Regions from separate parts of the Homo sapiens genome. Here region 2 is linked to region 1. Evidence: fine-mapped expression QTL. A gene starts in region 1. The other region holds a variant in brackets. All regions are shown on one strand. Distances are from middle to middle. Region 1 holds the start of RCCD1 (RCC1 domain containing 1). Region 2 holds the start of LOC105370970 (a long non-coding RNA gene).

What was found. PIP is the estimated chance that this variant, and not a neighbour inherited with it, causes the effect.
Region 2: its variant is the best candidate, but not a certain one, in a credible set for the expression of RCCD1 in lung (TOPMed, PIP 0.75).

What each region holds. Positions count from the first base shown.
Region 1 is chr15:90,951,801-90,957,168 of GRCh38, forward strand. RCCD1 (RCC1 domain containing 1) reads left to right here and starts at 3,084. Exons shown (of 8, transcript NM_001017919.2): 1 at 3,084-3,148; 2 at 4,812-5,100; 3 at 5,313-5,368. The coding sequence starts at 4,935. UNC45A (unc-45 myosin chaperone A) reads left to right here. Exons shown (of 20, transcript NM_018671.5): 18 at 1,129-1,246; 19 at 1,355-1,510; 20 at 1,659-2,293. The coding sequence ends at 1,916. It overlaps RCCD1-AS1 (RCCD1 and UNC45A antisense RNA 1), which reads right to left and starts at 2,693. Exons shown (of 2, transcript NR_170325.1): 1 at 2,535-2,693; 2 at 438-1,405. RefSeq lists enhancers at 1,441-1,941, 2,766-3,320, 3,121-3,230 and silencers at 3,451-3,580, 4,811-5,040, 5,161-5,210.
Region 2 is chr15:91,006,471-91,011,838 of GRCh38, forward strand. It overlaps VPS33B (VPS33B late endosome and lysosome associated), which reads right to left. Exons shown (of 23, transcript NM_018668.5): 6 at 3,331-3,376; 7 at 1,400-1,494; 8 at 999-1,103; 9 at 480-576; 10 at 182-259. LOC105370970 (a long non-coding RNA gene) reads left to right here and starts at 4,084. Exons shown (of 2, transcript XR_932611.3): 1 at 4,084-4,699. The variant C/T (reference allele first, on the strand shown) is at 2,176.

The sequences.
Region 1 (5,368 bases):
CCAGCTACTCGAGAGGCTGAGGCAGGAGGATCACTTGAGCCTGGGGGGGTCAAGGCTACAGCAGTGAGCTGTGATCATGCCACTTTACTCCAGCCTAGGTGACAGAGTGAGATCCTGCCTCAAAAAAACACAGAAACAAAAACCCTCAAATGTTAGGTGTTAGCCTCACCATCACGACCACCCTGGTCTTCTACATCCTAATTTTGAGCATTTCCCACAATCCTATGCTATTTCCTAGGCCTGGTTAGAAGGCTAAGAAGCACTGTAGTTCATACCTGGTGCAAGAGGGTCCTTGGACATTGCCAAGGGAAATCCTCAGCCCAGGACTTGATTGCATGAGGGTGTGGGTGCAGGGGTGGAGCAGATGTAGAAACTCTGATGATGCTGCCGGTGTTAGTCTGTTCTTGCATTGCTGTAAAGGAATACCTGAGACTGGGTAATTTATAAAGAAAAGAGATTTAATTGCTTCCTGGCTCTACAGGCTGTGTAAGCATGGCATTGGCATTTGCTCAGCTTCTGGGGAGGCCTCAGAGAGCTTTTACTCATAGTAGAAGGCAAAGCAGGAGCAGGCACATCACATGGTGAAAGTAGGAGCAAGAGACAGTCGGGGGAGGTGCCACACACTTTTTTTTTTTTTGAAATGGAGTCTCCCTCTGTTGCCCAGGCTGGAGTGCAGTGGCGCAATCTTGGCTCACTGCAACCTTCACCTCCTGGGTTCAATCGCTTCTCCTGCCTCAGCCTCCCTGAGTAGCTGGGACTACAGGCGCGCACCAGCATACCCAGCTAATTTTTTTTTGTCTTTTTAGTAGAGACAAGGTTTCACCATGTTGGCCAGGCTGGTCTCGAACTCTTGACCTCAAGTCATCTGCCTGCCTCGGCCTTCCAGAGTGCTGGGATTACAGGCGTGAGCCTCCACGCCCGGCCGAGATGCCACGCACTTTTAAATAACCAGATCTCACGAGAACTTACTATCACGAGGATAGCACCAAGCCATGAGGGACCCATCCCATGACCCAGTCACCTCCCACCAGGCCCTACCTCCAACATTGGGGATTATAGTTCAACATGAGGGTTAGAAGGGAAAACATCCAAACCGTATCCCTGCTGCTTCCTCCTGTGGCCCTGCAGGCAGAAGATCCTGAAGGAGAAGGCTGTGCCCATGATAGAAGGCTACATGTTTGAGGAGCATGAGATGATCCGCCGGGCAGCCACGGAGTGCATGTGTAACTTGGCCATGAGCAAGGAGGTGAGGGTTGGTCTGGGTGCTCATGACAGGCGGGGATGCAGAGGTACCTGTGCCCTGGCTGGGCTTTACACCCAACTGACTTGGTCCACTCCTCACATCTGGCCACAGGTGCAGGACCTCTTCGAAGCCCAGGGCAATGACCGACTGAAGCTGCTGGTGCTGTACAGTGGAGAGGATGATGAGCTGCTACAGCGGGCAGCTGCCGGGGGCTTGGCCATGCTTACCTCCATGCGGCCCACGCTCTGCAGCCGCATTCCCCAAGTGGTCAGTGCCTCTTCTCAGTGGGGGAGGAGGGACGGACCAGGAACTCCCAGCAGCAGCTGAAGGGGGCAGTCCTAGGGTGTGTGGGTGTGTCCCTTGCCAAGGTTGAGCCTGTTGCCCAGGGGTCATATCTACCCTGTTTTTCTCACAGACCACACACTGGCTGGAGATCCTGCAGGCCCTGCTTCTGAGCTCCAACCAGGAGCTGCAGCACCGGGGTGCTGTGGTGGTGCTGAACATGGTGGAGGCCTCGAGGGAGATTGCCAGCACCCTGATGGAGAGTGAGATGATGGAGATCTTGTCAGTGCTAGCTAAGGGTGACCACAGCCCTGTCACAAGGGCTGCTGCAGCCTGCCTGGACAAAGCAGTGGAATATGGGCTTATCCAACCCAACCAAGATGGAGAGTGAGGGGGTTGTCCCTGGGCCCAAGGCTCATGCACACGCTACCTATTGTGGCACGGAGAGTAAGGACGGAAGCAGCTTTGGCTGGTGGTGGCTGGCATGCCCAATACTCTTGCCCATCCTCGCTTGCTGCCCTAGGATGTCCTCTGTTCTGAGTCAGCGGCCACGTTCAGTCACACAGCCCTGCTTGGCCAGCACTGCCTGCAGCCTCACTCAGAGGGGCCCTTTTTCTGTACTACTGTAGTCAGCTGGGAATGGGGAAGGTGCATCCCAACACAGCCTGTGGATCCTGGGGCATCTGGAAGGGCGCACACATCAGCAGCCTCACCAGCTGTGAGCCTGCTATCAGGCCTGCCCCTCCAATAAAAGTGTGTAGAACTCCACTGTGTGCCCTGTCCTTGGGCAGGGAGGGCTGCTGTGAGTGGGAGTCTCTGAGTGGGTGAGTGTGGGTGAGTATGGGTGTGAGCTGGGCGTGGGTGAGTGTGCAACGGAGCTTCACAGTGGCAGACCCACCTCCATGGAAGGAATCCAATGGATTCCCCAACCAGGGCCCACTGAGTTGCTTCTTAATCCTACTGGAGGGACAAAGGGTAAGCCTAGGAAGCTAATCAATAAGAAACTCACCAGGTGCGGTGCCTCAAGCTTGTAATCCCAGCGCTTTGGGAGGCTGAGGCAGGTGGATCACTTGAAGTCAGGGGTTCGAGACCAGCCTGGGCAACAAGCAAAACTCTTTCTCTATAAAAATACCAAAAAAAAAAAAAAAAAAAAAAAAAGAGCAGAGTGTGGCGGCATGCACCTGTAATCCCAGCTACTCGGTAGGCGAAGGTTGCAGTGAGCCCAGAGCGCAGCCTCCCAAAGTGTCGCCTGGGCGACACAGCGAGACCCTATCTCAAAAAATATTAAACTATCCCAAGAAATAAGTCGTTTAGGGTAGAGACTCCCATATGCTGGGCCTTCAGTACGTTTGTCTTTATATTGGGAGTCCTCTGTGGCCTCCGCTGAGGGCGCTGGGGCGGGGGTTGGGGTTGGTGGCCAGCTGAGCCTGGTTGAAGGGCGGCTTGGGCCCCGCCCACCACCCCAGCACGTTCGAGGAGGGCTAAGCCCAGCGTGAGGCTCGTTGGCTCGACAGAGGCACGTGACGGGTCCTGAGCCAATCCGTGGAAGGTAAAAGCTGCTTCCTGTTGGGGCATGAGTCCGGCGCGTGTCGGGTTTTGAGCTGCCGCGGTCCCGGGACTGAGGTGGGTGGCGGGGTCCGCCCGTCTTGGGCGTCACTCCTCGCCAAACCTTTAGCTCAAGTCTTAATGAATGTCCTCTCTGTGGTTCTAATCCGAGCTCCAGCCCCACGGGTTCCTGCAGGGGCGGGACCACCTGGCCCAACCTCTGCCTTGGTCCAACGCCCCCGGTTTCCTCCAGGGCCTTGGTCCAACGCCCCTCGGAGGTTTCAGCCCATTTCACAGACCGGGCCGCAGGGCCCCGGCGTAGGCCTCGGGACCGGAGAGGCCCTCAAGGGGAGTTGAACAGGGCTGCGGCCGCCGCGCCCCGGGCGGCGACGTCACCGCCCTTGCTGGTGATTGGCCGCCTCGCGCCGCGCGCCCTTCAAACCTTTTCTCCCCGTGGCTGTCGGCGCCCGCTGGGCGGGAGGCCTTTCCGGAGGCGGCCGCTCTGCGCCTCGGCGTTTCCTCCAAGGCTGCCCACCAGAAGGACCTGCCCGAGAGGGTAGAGGGCATAGGGTCAAGATCAAGGTCAGAGGCCCCCTTGGGTTGGGAGAGGACACGGAAGGGGTTAGGAGCCCAGGAACTGGGGTCTCAGGAGAGACCCAGGATCTGACTTAAGAGGCCTGAAAATGCCCATGCAATTCTGCTTCAGCCCGGGTGCAGCGGCTCACGCCTGTAATCCCAACGCTTTGGGAGGCCGAGGCGGGCGGATCACTCGAGCCCAGGAATTTGAGACCAGCCTGGGCAGCATAGCGAGACCCCTGTCTCTATTATATTAAAAAAAAAAAAAAACAAACCCGCTCCAGCCGAATCTGCTTGAAGTTGGCGTTGCTGTTGTAACCACCAGACTGTTTGTCTCCCCATTTAACGGTTAGCTCCTTGGGAGCAGACAGCTGTCCTCACTGGCAGAGGAGGAGCGCTCAGTAAATGCTCGCTGGACGAATAAATGGCTAGATAAGGTACAGTTGAAATTCTGTCTGTATAAGTTTCTCAAAACCAGTAAGATGTCCAGGGATAATTTTTTTGTCAACACTAAATACTGGATTCAGTAAGCTAATACTGTGTGTTTATCATGGCATGTACTCGCACCAAACCCTTTATTTGCATTTATTACAATTCTGTGAGGAAGGTTCAAACAGCACCGCCCCCACCTCCCTTTGTAAACTGAAGAAACGCAGTTGGACTCAGGTGGATTGGCTGCGGTCCCAAGGCCCCGCTGAGTTGCAGAGGCACTGCCTCCCAAACGCTCTTCTGCGTTCCGCTGTGGGGAGAGGGGCAGAGCACTGTGTGTGGAGTTGGTGGGACCTGATTTCAGCGCTCTGCCCCTCTCTGTCTGGCTGTATGAGTGTGTAAGGGTTACTTTGTCTCAGAATCTCCTCTGTAAAACGACCATTTTGGTTCCCAAGATTACATGGGATAAAGTGCCAGATGCTGGGAAGCTGCGGGACGGGGTGGGGGTGTCGGGGGCGCTCGGATCCTAGTCCAATGCCTAAAGGACAGGCCACTTCGTACCCACTTTGTGGCACGCTGAGCTTGAGCCAAAAGGGAGGACAGGGAAAGTGCCTCTAAATATTTGAGCATCTTTGTAAATCCGGTAGGGCATTAGTCAGGGCGCCTGCTCAGCGAACCTTCGTGGCACGGACTCTGCCTTTGTGGTCGGGAGAATGATAGTTTCTCCATTTTACAGATAAGGCAGCTCCAGCCCCTGGAAGGCCAGAGACTTGCCAGTGTCCCACTAGCGGGCTCTTCGCAAGAATCCCCCCGGGCCCGCCGCAGCCAGGCGGCGGCCGGCAGAGGGCGCTGCTCGGGCATGGCGGAGGAGCGGCCGGGGGCCTGGTTCGGCTTCGGTTTCTGCGGCTTCGGGCAGGAGCTGGGCTCCGGACGCGGGCGCCAGGTGCACAGCCCCAGTCCGCTGCGGGCGGGCGTCGACATCTGCCGCGTGAGCGCGAGCTGGAGCTACACCGCTTTCGTGACCCGTGAGCACTCCCCGCCCCGTCCCCACTTATTCCAGCCGCGCTCCCCAGTCGCCTCCCCGCACCGCTGTGGCCAGTCCAGTTTGTCTCCCCCGTTCAGGCCGCCAGCCCCACATTCTGGGTTGGTCCCCAATTCGACCCCTTCCCAGGAACACCCCGCTCCCCCCATCCCCGCCGCCTCCATTCTGGCCACCCTGCTCCAATCCGCCCCGCAGGTGGAGGCCGCTTGGAGCTGTCGGGCTCAGCCAGCGGCGCGGCGGGCCGCTGCAAG
Region 2 (5,368 bases), 55 kb after region 1:
AGGATCTCCAATGAGGACTTCTCCTACCATTCCCTGAACTGCCATAAAGGTCCTCAAACTATTTGGAAGCCAGCAGTTCATTCAGGGTCTGGGTCTCTCCCACAAACCCTGCCCCACGTGGGAGGTGCCAAGGCTGATGACCCGTCCATCTTGCCAAGATGCAGAGGACCATAGCACTTACCACACTTGATGCGGAAGGTGTCATCTACTAGGCCCTCATAAACCACTTGGGAGCAAAGTGCTGTCACAAAGTCCACATCTGAAACAGAGATCCCTGACCATGAAGGTTCTCCCTGACCCAGCCTTCTACACAGCATGTCCAAGGGCAGCTTTGATACTTTCCATAGGGCCAAGGACCCACGCTCCTCAAAGCTGGGATTCACAGCCCTAACTTTAGGATTTTAACTTTGCCACCACGCCTTCCATATTCCCGTGTCTTCTAGGGCTGAAAGATGACAGGAACGCTGGGCATAATTTACCTCTGTCCAAGAGAAAGATATGTCCAATCTCTGGCCTTCGGCCCTTGGTTTCGCCATCCTCCTCCTCCTCCAGGTTCCTCCACAATTCATATGCCATCTGCCAGGGCCCAAGACATTCTCAGTCTTGTGTCCAGGTCCCTACTGCAGCCCCATACCTACAGAAGTCAGCCCTTTCCACGTGATACTTCCTCTTGTCCCCGAGACAGGAGCTAATTATTCACAATATGGCCCTATCTACTCCCGTCTGTGTCTATCTTTCCCCAACACTCTTCCTACTGATGAGAAGATGTGTTACTCTGTCCCCAAAATAAAAAGAGATTTAGGAATGCTACCCAGGAGATCCTGGCTTTTGCTTCTCTGTTAGCCACACAAGTTCTCCTCTCTGAGGATCTATTCCAGAACAATGAAAGCAAAGTAAAGAATACACCTCATATCACAGGTGCCCTTGGATAACCCCAGGAGGGTACAGAACAGGGAAAACAGCGTCTGCTGGGACAACAGTACTGCTAGTGCTCTTACCTTGGCGCACCTGCCAATTCCATAGCAGTTTGGAAAGGGTCCATAGAGAGTGCTGAGAAGGTGTAAGGCCTGAGCTACAGTGTTGATCCAACGCTGATCTCCTTCCTGCAGGGACCACACAAGCCACAAAGATATGAATCAACCCAGTAGGACCACCTGGAAAGTGGCTAGCCCTAGAAGCCCTGGAGCAGGGTGGCAGGGCCTGGGGGATGCTTGAAAGGTTTTCATTGGCTCCACAGGAAGTCCCACAGAGACCAATCTGTAGCACTCAATCACCACATCACTATCACTTGTGATAAATTACTTGCGTTGGACAAAGGTTATATTGGTATTTCTAGCCCTCTGCATCCCACATTTGTCCCCATCCCCTGATGCCAAGACACAAGGGCCTCTGCATTTACCAGAAAGTAATCCCTGAAAAATTCTGGTAGTTCCATGCTCAGCAGATCCACATCAAGAGGCAGCAAAGAGAAGGCCCATTCATCACAGCTCACATCTGTGGGGACAGAGAGCATCAGCCTCCCTGCAGAAGGTACTTAGCTCCACGTTAAGAGGGAAGGTCCGCCACAAATATTTGAGTGCGTGCAACAAATATATGAGTGCCTGCCACATGCCAGTACTGCATTAAGCAATGGAGGCTCAAAGAAGAATAAGACACAGTCCCTGCCCTTAAGGAGCTCACAGTCTGATAAGGAAAGGAGATGTGTCCACAGCAGCCTGTAATACAATGTGATAAGTGGTGGGTTTTTACTAGAGGGCTGACCAAAAGTGCCGAGAAAACATTCATTCATTCATTATTTATTTATTTATTTAGAGATGGAGTTTAGCAATTTTCATCCAGGCTGGAGTGCAATGGTGCAGTCTCGGCTCACTGCAACCTCCGCCTCCTGGGTTCAAGCAATTCTCCTGCCTCAGCCTCCCAAGTAGCTGGGATTACAGGTGCACGCCACCATGCCCAGCTAATTTTTGTATTTTTGGCAGAGACGGGGTTTTGCCATGTTGGCCAGGCTTGTCTCAAACTTCTGACCTCTGGTGATCTGCCTGCCTTGGCCTCTCAAAGTGCTGGGATTACAGGTGTGAGCCACCACGCCCAGCTCACTCATTCATTATTCAGCATATATTTACTGAAAGCTGCCTACATGTAGGACTGTATGAACACCAGAGATACAGCAGTGAG[C/T]AAAATGGACATGCTCCCAACCTTCTGGAGCTTACAGTCTAGTGAGGGAGACACACCAGACAAATTATGACACAAACTATTAAATCACGGTTGTGCTCCAAAGAGGTCAAACAGCAAGCTGTGAGCACATATATTAAAGGGATGTAACCACAACTGGGGGTATAGGAAAGACTTCCCTCAAGAAGAGAAAATCAAGCTTAGAATTTGGGTAAGACTCGGGAAGGCAAAAAGCTATAGGGTGGAGAACGTTCTGGGTACCTGGAAAAGCATGGGTAAAGTCTCTCTGGCTGGAGGGTGGCGAGTCAGGAGAAGGAAGCAGCACACGATGAGGCTAATGGGACAGGAGGGGCCAGACTGTGCAAGGGATAGGAGGCATGTTGGGGATTCTGGGCTTTATATTGAGCCGCTGCTATTTCCAGCAGGGAGGGCTGTGATCAGGTTTGGGTTGTGTGGAGAATAGCGGAGGAATACACAGAGGGGAGGCCCAGTTTTTCCTGTGGGAGCCTTGGAAGGTGAGAAAAGAGTGGCTGGTCATTTCCAACTCTAAGCCCTGGTGTTCCTTTCATACTACCCCAGGAGTGTTCTTTTCTTATCCTTTCTTTTCCCTCCCTCCCTCTCTCTCTTTCTCTCTTTTCTTTTATTTTCTTTCTCTCTCTCTTTCTTTCTTCCTTCCTTCCTTTCTCTGAGTCTCACTCTTGTTGCCCAGGCTGGAGTGCAATGGCGTGATCTCGGCTCACTGCAACCTCTGCCTCCCGGGTTCAAGCAATTCTTCTGCCTCAGCCTCCCGAGTAGCTGGGATTACAAGCGTGCGCCATCACGCCCAGCTAATTATTGTATTTTTAGTAGAGATGGGGTTTCACCATGTTGCCCAGGCTGGACTCAAACTCCTGACCTCAGGTGATCCACCCCCTCGGCCTCCCAAAGTGCTGGGATTACAGGCATGAGCCACTGCGCCCAGCCCCCAGTAGTGTTCTAATTCGTGGTCCTATTCCCATTCCCATTCTCAGGAACCTCTCCTCCTGCTACACTAACAGGAATAAGACCAGGAAAAGAAGGAGCTGGTGGTGGGGGTGGGGTGGGGGGGTTGGAGAACAACAACAGTTTTTTCTTCTGTATGTTCTCTTTCCCTTTCCACTCACATTCATCTCCTCTCACCTCCATAGATTCCCTCTTCCTCAAGCACCATCTCACACGCATAGAACTGAAAGAGAAAAGGAAATTGATTAGTAACTACCTTCTTCTCTGTTCTCTCCATTTCTCTGGAGTTCCTCTGTGGTCACTGATGAGGACAATAATTGCCGAACCCAGTGAAAGACAAGAGAACCCAGACTCTTAAGATCTAGAAAGAACCATTAGAATCATTCAGCCCAGCACTTCAGTTCTTTCTCATCCATTTAATTTATGTTTGAGTAAATTGCTTCTTATCTCCCTGAGAGAATGGAAGAGGTTTACAAAGGAGAAGGAGTTCAGCTGTCTTCAAAAGGTAAGTTGTACAGACAGAGATGAGAGCAATGGCATGAAGTGCTCTGGAAATTGTGGAGGAGCAGATGGGAGGAAAAGATCTGTACAAGGGAGAGTGAGTTCTGTTTAGGACATGCCCACGGGACCTTGGGAGACACAGACAAGGACTTGGGATTAAGTAGCATATATGCTGTATTTAAAGTGGATGATGTGGCTGGGTGCACTGGCTCACTCCTATAATCCCAGAACTTTGGAAGGCCGAGGCAGGTGAATCGCTTGAGCCCAGAAGTTCTAGACCAGTCTGGGCAACATAGTGACACCCCATCTCTACAAAACAATGCAAAAATTAGCTGGGCATGGTGGTGTGTGCCTGTAGTCCAGTTACTCAGGAGGCTGAGGTGGGAGGATCACTTGAGCCCAGGAGGTCAAGGCTGCACTGAGCTGAGATTGTGCCACTGCACTCCAGCCTGGGCAACAGAGTGAGGCCCTGTCTCAAATAAATAAATAAAGTAGATGGTCTGTCCAAGAGAAAAGAACACGCAGAGGAGAGCTAAGGACAGGACTCTAGGGAACACAAGATGAAAGGGGGCCAGAGTACAGGACCTGGCAGGGAAGACTGAGAAAGAATACTCAGAGAAGCAGGGGCAGGAGAAAACAGCAACAGTCAAGGCAGGAAAGGTGAGAGTTGCAAGGAAGGGTGGGCAACAGTGTCAAATGCCAGGGAAGTTAAGTAGGATTAACATTAAATAGACACCAGTGGATTTGACAACGGAGACCTGAGGGAGACTAGATGAAACGATGAAGGTGGAGATGAGGAAGCAGAAGCAGTGACAATAGAACATTCTTCACAGAAGCCTGGCCCTGAAAGAAGGGGGAGCTCTGAAAGGGAAAAGAGATGAAATGGGAGACATTGTTTAGAAGGCATAGACATGGGTGAAGGCAGAAGAGAAAGTCTACCTGGTAAAGCAAGATAATGGAGAAGGAAAGCAGAAATGGGGCCAAGAACTGGCATGGAACAGCTCATCTTAGGAGGGAAAAGGCCACGATCTCTTCCTCCTTTGAGGTAAGTGGGGAAAGGGTGAATATTTTAAAGTAATGAGAAAGAATGCTGAGGGCACTCACATCTGATAATGAGTTGACATTATTAACAGCTAATGTTGTAAGCCCTTAAAATGGTTTAGGCATTGTTCTTAGTGTTTTACAGGAATCACTTGTCTTCATCTTCATACTAGCTCTGTGAGATGTAGATCAATGCTACGTGCTCCTTATTTTACTGTTACACAGAAGAATCCTATTCCTCCCTCACTCATTTCTGCCAGGAAAACTGAAATCTTCAGGCCTGCTTTTAACTTTTAATGCTAAGTAATGGAATTCCAGAGCCAGGTCTGAAAACTGCCAATCTTCATAATTAACAAAGGAGTCTCAAAGAAGAGAGAGAGATGCCTCCTAATATAAAATTAGGTCAAAGAATTTGATTAGATAAGGTGTTAAGTGGAGAACACTCATAAAAATAACTATTTTGTTTTTCTGTGTAATAGAGAGGCTTGTAGGATTATTTTAACTTGTAGGATTATTCCCTGTTAATACAAATCTGTCCTTGGCCAGGCGCAGTGGCTCATGCCTGTAATCCTAGCACTCTGGGAGGCAGAGGTGGGCAGATTGCCTGAGCTCAGGAATTTGAGACCAGCTTGGGCAATATGGCAAAACCCCACCTCTTTTAAAAATATAAAAA